2 linked regions of the Homo sapiens genome follow. The protein of the gene in region 2 interacts with the protein of the main gene of each other region in a pairwise test. Each region holds a gene or a part of one and is shown on either strand. Other genes may lie near its edges.

Region 1 (3,500 bases), on a different chromosome or scaffold from region 2:
GCAGCCATTGCTTTGGAGAGATGGGAGAGAACATGGCACTAAGGCAGAATATGGCTATATTTACTTTGAAGAGCATGTCTTTGTCATAGAAATAGTCACTGTCATGGTTTGGTGGGTCCCAAGGCATGGGTCATGGCTCCAGATCCCCTTTCCAGCCTTTTGGATCTTGGTAAGTCTGAACCCACTGCTGCGTTGGCAAGGCTCTGGAAACTATAGTGACAGAGAATGATTCACAAGTGTCAACACTCAGATGTACAGGGCTGCCAGCTGACCCACTCTACCTATTTCCATCTGGCACTGAACTGGTTGATCATGAACTTCTTTTCATAATTGCTTTTTAGTTATGCAGGTTAAGACATGCCGAAACAGATGTACCGGACCCACAAACAAGTCCTTCCTTGAATGCCTGAGGCTTCCTAACAGTGAAAGAGCCCTGTTCTTAGAGTAGGCAAACTGATTCTGAGGCATTGTAGGTGGTAGGGATCTGGTAGTAGGTAGCATTAGGTGGGCTCCCGGCACTCACCATGGAGCCTTGAAATTTTCTGCTACTTTGGGGGAGTTGCTGGTTCAGAGAAGGCCCTTCCACCCTGGTAGCCATGTGGCACTGGAAGGCTGTGAAAACTCTGCTGGGCCTTCTTAGTCATCTGTTGTGAGCTCCTGATGGGAGTGTGGTGTATCCCTCAGGTGTGCTAGACTGGAACAAAGGCTGAGAAGTGTTGCTCTGGGGGTTCCAACTTGTGGGCATGGGGTACTGATGAGATCAGTAGTGTTTGGAGACTTCTGTATGCTCCATCTTCAGAAGACATTCTGGAGTCCATATAAGTTATCTTGTCTCTTGTTTGAAGCAGGAAAAAGGAATGCGATTGCTGGTAATATAGTTCACTAAAGTCAGCTACCTGGCCTCTAACAGTTATTTGCAAAGTATATTATAACATTGATTCCTCAAACATCTAGATTCCTATCTCGTGCCAAGTGATGTACTAGGTGCTCTAAGTACAAAAATAAAGGAATATAGTCCTCCTCTCAATGCGTAAGCCTAGTGGAAGAAGCAGAAATGAAAGGGAAATAAGAATTCAATAGAGTATGAGGCATTACAGTGAAAGAAACCAAATGTCTTAGAAGTACAAATGGCAGAGCTACTAATTCTGTCTCGAGCAGGCAGGGAAGAGTCTATAGTGGAAATGACTTTTGAGCTAGATTTTGAATTGAGCTAGTCTTTTGAGCCAGACTTTTGAGCTAGAATTGTAGGGTTGTCATCAGACCAGAGAGTAGGAAGGGTACCTTGTGAGGAAGAGAGAGAGAGATCAGATTGTTACTGTGTCTATGTAGAAAAGGAAGACATAAGAAACTCCATTTTGATCTGTACTAAGAAAAATTGTTTCTGCTTTGAGATGCTGTTAACCTGTAACTTTAGTCCCAACCCTGTGCTCACAGAAACCTGTGCTGTAATGAATCAAGGTTTAATGGATTTAGGGCTGTGCAGGATGTACCTTGTTAACAATATGTTTGCAGGCAGTATGCTTGGTAAAAGTCATCGCCATTCTCCATTCTCGATTAACCAGGGACACAGTGCACTGCGGAAGGCCGCAGGGACATCTGCCCAAGAAAGCCTGGGTATTGTCCAAGGTTTCCCCCCACTGAGACAGCCTGAGATATGGCCTTGTGGGAAAGGAAAGACCTTACCACCCCCCAGCCCGACACCCGTAAAGTGTCTGTGCTGAGGAGGAGTAGTGAAAGAGCGGGGCCTCTTTGCAGTTGAGATAAGAGGAAGGCTTCTGTCTCCTGCTCATCCCTGGGAATGGAATGTCTCTGTGTAAAGCTGACCATTCCCATTCGTTCTATTCTGAGATAGGAGAAAACCACCCTGTGGCTGGAGGCGAAGTATGCTGGCAGCAATACTGCTCTGTTACTCTTTGCTACACTGAGTTGTTTGGGTAAAGAGAAACATAAATCTAGCCTGCGTGCACATCCAGGCACAGTACCTTTCCTTGAACTTATTCATGATACAGATTCCTTTGCTCACGTTTCCCTGCTGACCTTCTCCCCACCTGTTGCCCTGCTACACTCCCCTCGCTAAGATAGTAAAAATAATGATCAGTAAATACTGAGGTAACTCAGAGGCTAGCGCTGGTGCGGGTCCTCCGTATGCTGAGTGCCGGTCCCCTGGGCCCACTGTTCTTTCTCTATACTTTGTTTCTGTGTCTTATTTCTTTTCTCAGTCTCGTCCCACCTGACGAGAAATACCCACAGGTGTGGAGGGGCTGGCCCCTTTCAGTATCTCAGAAGGGACAAAGTACACAAAGGCATGGGGTCATGATAGTGCCTGGTATGTTCAGGTAGTGAAGAGGTCCATGTGGTATGAGCACTGCAGATGATATGTGTCGTATGAATTAAAAATACATAGTTACTGCAAATAGTTTTTACAGGTTATTGTTTTTAAGAAAGCAGTATCTAATGCACGAGTGTACTGTCAGTACTGTCAATGAACTACTTACCACTCAAGTGACTGCTTATCTGTTGTTCTGTCCTCTCAAGCCACCTACAGTCAGAAAATGGTCTTGATTTTACTGATGTTGCTGTTAATAATAGCTGTGACTTCTTGAGTACCCACCACATGCCAGGCCCAATGTAGGGGCTTTGCATCCATTATCCATGATCTTTACAACAACCCTGCAAAATTAGGTATCAGCCTTATTTTAAAGTCTTGACAGCTTGTGACTTCCCTGAAGTTGCATAGGCAGGAAGAATCTAAGTCAACATTCGAATCCACGTCAGTCTCATGAAGCCTGTGCTCTTTCCTGCGTGCCATGCCATAGTTCTAGTTAAGTGACAACTCCTTTCCTCCATGACATTGTAGATCCAGTATGCTAAGGAACCCTCTATTTACAAATTGTAAGTGATTAAACAAAACAAACCTGTTAGTGGCGCTTATACATCCAAATGAGTGTTGTTATTCAAAGAGGTTACTTGGGGAAAGAGAATGTATACACCTATTCCATTGTTCATACTCCTTGTTACTCATCTGGAATTCCCTTTAAAGTCAGTTTACATATCACATAAGAAGATCCATCTCATTGCTTTATGATCATCTATCATTTTCAACCAAAATAGTTCCACCTAGTTTGATCACACATCTTATTCACTAACCTTGGCTCTGACTGACTGTTTGCCATTTCCAAAATTTGAATCCACCCTCAGTGAAAATTTAGCACCATTTGGGATAGTCAGAAGATCAGACTGCAGGTTCTCAAGGTGCTTCCAAGAAGAAAGCTTCAAAGATGATTTGAGTAATGAAGTACCATTGGAATTACTGCATTGCCTCCCAAGGGGACTGGTTAAAGGAGAGAAATCTCATTTGAATGTATAATTTCCAGTTTTAAAAGTATCATTCCTATTACTTGATAATTACACACACATTGTTCTTAGCTGTGTTCTTTGAGGGCCAGGATTTGGAGGTGCTGAATTACGTGCTGAATGAGTGGATGTTGGGTACAAATAGA
Region 2 (3,500 bases):
ACCCTGCAGTTTCCCGCTCACATGCCCTTCCGAGACTGAGTGCTCCGAGGACTGAGGACGAGAAATATGCCAGGTCTGCCACTGCCTTCTTACGAGACCCGGACCCAGGGGAGGCACAGCCATGCCCAGCTCCTGCCTGCCAGTTCTGTCCTCCCAGCTGCCCTACTTTCATGCTGGGACCTCCAATTCAGTACAAAGGGAGACCTCACTGTTTCTGAACCATCTCTACTCAGACTCCCAAGTGCCACGTGCCCAGGGGACTGTTCTGTGACAAACTTATACACAACTTCACCCTATTCTCCTAAGAACAACCGCAGAATAGGCCTTTCAGGATGAGTGGGAGGACAGCCGAGGGCAGGGATGTGCTAGTGTAAGGTCGAGGCAGAGGGTGGGCTGCTGTCATGGAAAGACCCCAGGTAACTGCGTCACACACAAATTTGTGTCCTTCTCCCACAACGGGCTCTCCCGAGTTCTCTGTCATCTGCACGGCCCTGTGAGCAGGAGGGGAAACAGAGGGCTCACCCCTGCCCCCAAGGCCCAGTGTGCAAATCCATTCATCACAACGAGGTTGTGTGAGTCTCCCCAGTAGCAAGGGCTGCTGAGGAATGGAGCCCTCGTTTCCGGGGCCTGCGTGGCCCACTCTGTATTCTATGACTGTGATGGGGGAGGGTGGGGGCCACAGGACAGCTGGTGGGCTCTGCCATGGCTGGGGCTAGACATGGATTAAAAAGTGAGTATGAGCAGGGGCCTCTAGGAGTGGTGGGATAGTGCGGTGGTGGCCACATGTCATTCTACGTGCGTCCAAACCTACAGAATGTAAAACACCAGGAGGGAGACTCAAAGAAAACTATCAACTTTGAGTGCTGAGGACGTGTCAGTGTAGGTTCGTCAGTTGCAACAAATGGGCCACGCTGGTGTGAGATGTTGATCACGGGGGAGGCTGTGTAGTGGGGGACAAGAGTTATATGGGAACTTTCTGTACTTTCTGCTCGATTTTGCTGTGAACCTAAAGTCACTCTAAAAAATAACATCTCTTAAATTTTTTAAAAAGTGAGTGTGTCAAACCACAGCCTTTGGGTCAGGACAGTTCTAGGTTTGAGTTGACCTGGCAGGTACCAGTGGCTTATGTCCCTTAAGGTGACAGATGCAAAACCCCCGGTTTGGTGCCTGGCATGTTGTGTGTCTTGCAGGTGGCGGTTAGGGCTGCCTCAGTGAACTCAAATGGCTGCATTTTACAGGAGAAATATTTGAGCCACACTTGCGGTCCTGTGGCCAGGAGAATGCAGAGTGGCCTGGGGGGGGCCAAGGAAGGAGGCTGAGGCAGGGCGAGGGGCAGGATCTGGGCCTTTGGTGTCTGCCAGCCCTCATTCCTGCCCCTGTCTTGGGTGACTCTTCCCTCCCTGTCTCCTGTCTGGATTTCAGGGAAGATGAAGGGCTTCTCCCTGCTGGCCGAGCCCCAGGAGTTCTGGGTGGACAACAGCACCTCAGTGTCTGTTCCCATGCTCTCTGGCATGGGCACCTTCCAGCACTGGAGTGACATCCAGGACAACTTCTCGGTGACTCAAGTGCCCTTCACTGAGAGCGCCTGCCTGCTGCTGATCCAGCCTCACTATGCCTCTGACCTGGACAAGGTGGAGGGTCTCACTTTCCAGCAAAACTCCCTCAACTGGATGAAGAAACTATCTCCCCGGTAGGAGCCTCCCGGTCTCCCCTGGAATGTGGGAGCCACACTGTCCTGCCCAGGCTGGGGGCGGGGTGGGGAGTAGACACACCTGAGCTGAGCCTTGGGTGCAGAGCAGGGCAGGGCCGCGGTGGCACGGGGCTGGGCAGGCGGCCTGTGTGTCTGTCTACCAGTCCTCTATCCAGCCAGCACCCAGCTCTCCAGTTAGTGTCTGTCTTTCAAGTGCAGGCAAGGTAAAGGAGGAGAGGAAGAATGCTTTTTCTACACTTACACTTGCCTGGTAGTTTTGGAGGGGGAGAAAACATTGCAATCCGCCCTCTGAGAGAGGACCATTTTGGTCCCACACCTGACACACAGCACACCTGTGACATCCAAGAGCTTCTTGGAACTGACTTGCCAGGAGGGTTCGGACTTCGCGTGAGCGGGGGTGGGGCCTTCTCAGGGAGCGTCCCTTGACTCCAGAACGCCCTTGCTGGCGGCTGGCGGCTGGGTGGGGATAGGTGTTGTTAGCTCCTCTTTCCTGCTGCAATTCCTTTCCACAGAGCCCTGGACTCAAACTACACATCACCCCAGATCATCGAGGCCTGGAAATCTGCTCCCAGAGGCAGGCATTGAGTGACACGATGGCTTGACATCAACTCTGGGTGTTTTTTATGTTTTAAAAATTGTGATGGTAAAATATACGTAACAAAATTTGCCATCGTAACCATTTTCGAGTGCACAGTTCAGTGGTACTAGGCCCATTCACACTGTTGTGCAGCCATCACCCCCGTCCATCTCCATTTATCTTCTCAACTTCCCAAACTGAAGCTCTGTCCTGCTGAAACACTAACTCTCCATTTCCCCTTCCCCTTGGCCCCGGCAACCACCACGATGTCCTCGAGGTTCACCCATGTTGTAGCACATGTCAGAATGTCCTTCCTTTTGAAGGCTGAATAATATTCCATTGCATGTGGTTACCACCTTTTGTGTATCCACTCATCCATCGATGGACACGTGGGTTGCTTCCACCTTTGAGCTGCTGTGAATAGTGCAGTGTACCCTGTAAACATGGGTGTACTGTCAGCTCTTATAAGTGCTTGATACATCACTGGAAATGTCCATGGGCTCTGAAGGATGCCAAAAGATGGAAGAGGCTCTATACGAAGATCAATCGAGTTGACATAGCAACGTGTCCAGCACGAGGTTGACACTGTACCCTCCTGCCTCTCTCCTTTTCATGGGTGTCATGTCATCAAGAACACTGCTGTGGCAGTAGTAAGACACAGTGCATTATTTCAGAGAATAGCATTTAAAAATTACCCAAGTAACACACCTTCAATGCAGCCAACCTAAAAACAGAATGCACCAAAGGACAACCATTCCTAGGTCCTCATCGGTAAATCTTCTATGTCCCTCACATAGTATTGCAAATGACATGAAGGATTTTTATTGTAGGTTTTGCTGAAATTTTCCCCAAGGGGGAGGATGACTTAGTTGGGTGATGGGGGGAGCAAACATCCCTGTCGTCAGGGTTGGGTGCAAGGAGCATAAGCCTGCCTGGCCTCTGGGAGAGCCCTCACTGTGTGGCCTGGAGCCTTCCTAACTGTGCATCATCTCCCCAGGACCATCCACCTGACCATGCCCCAACTGGTGCTGCAAGGATCTTATGACCTGCAGGACCTGCTCGCCCAGGCTGAGCTGCCCGCCATTCTGCACACCGAGCTGAACCTGCAAAAATTGAGCAATGACCGCATCAGGGTGGGGGAGGTATGTGTGAGCCTGTGTCTGTGCCTGACCTGGGTTCCAAGTGTGCACAGGGTGGGAGGCATGGATGTAA

The links. Proteins that work in one complex are often made in the same cells at the same time.
Region 1: the proteins of AGT (region 2) and TMEM185A interact in binary tests that used the Homo sapiens proteins (3 or more experiments, as listed by UniProt).

What each region holds. Positions count from the first base shown.
Region 1 is NC_000023.11:149,625,293-149,628,792, reverse strand, and holds part of TMEM185A (transmembrane protein 185A), read left to right. Parts: intron 1-3,500.
Region 2 is NC_000001.11:230,704,123-230,707,622, reverse strand, and holds part of AGT (angiotensinogen precursor), read left to right. Parts: intron 1-1,422; coding exon 1,423-1,690; intron 1,691-3,285; coding exon 3,286-3,430; intron 3,431-3,500. UniProt on the Homo sapiens protein: Essential component of the renin-angiotensin system (RAS), a potent regulator of blood pressure, body fluid and electrolyte homeostasis.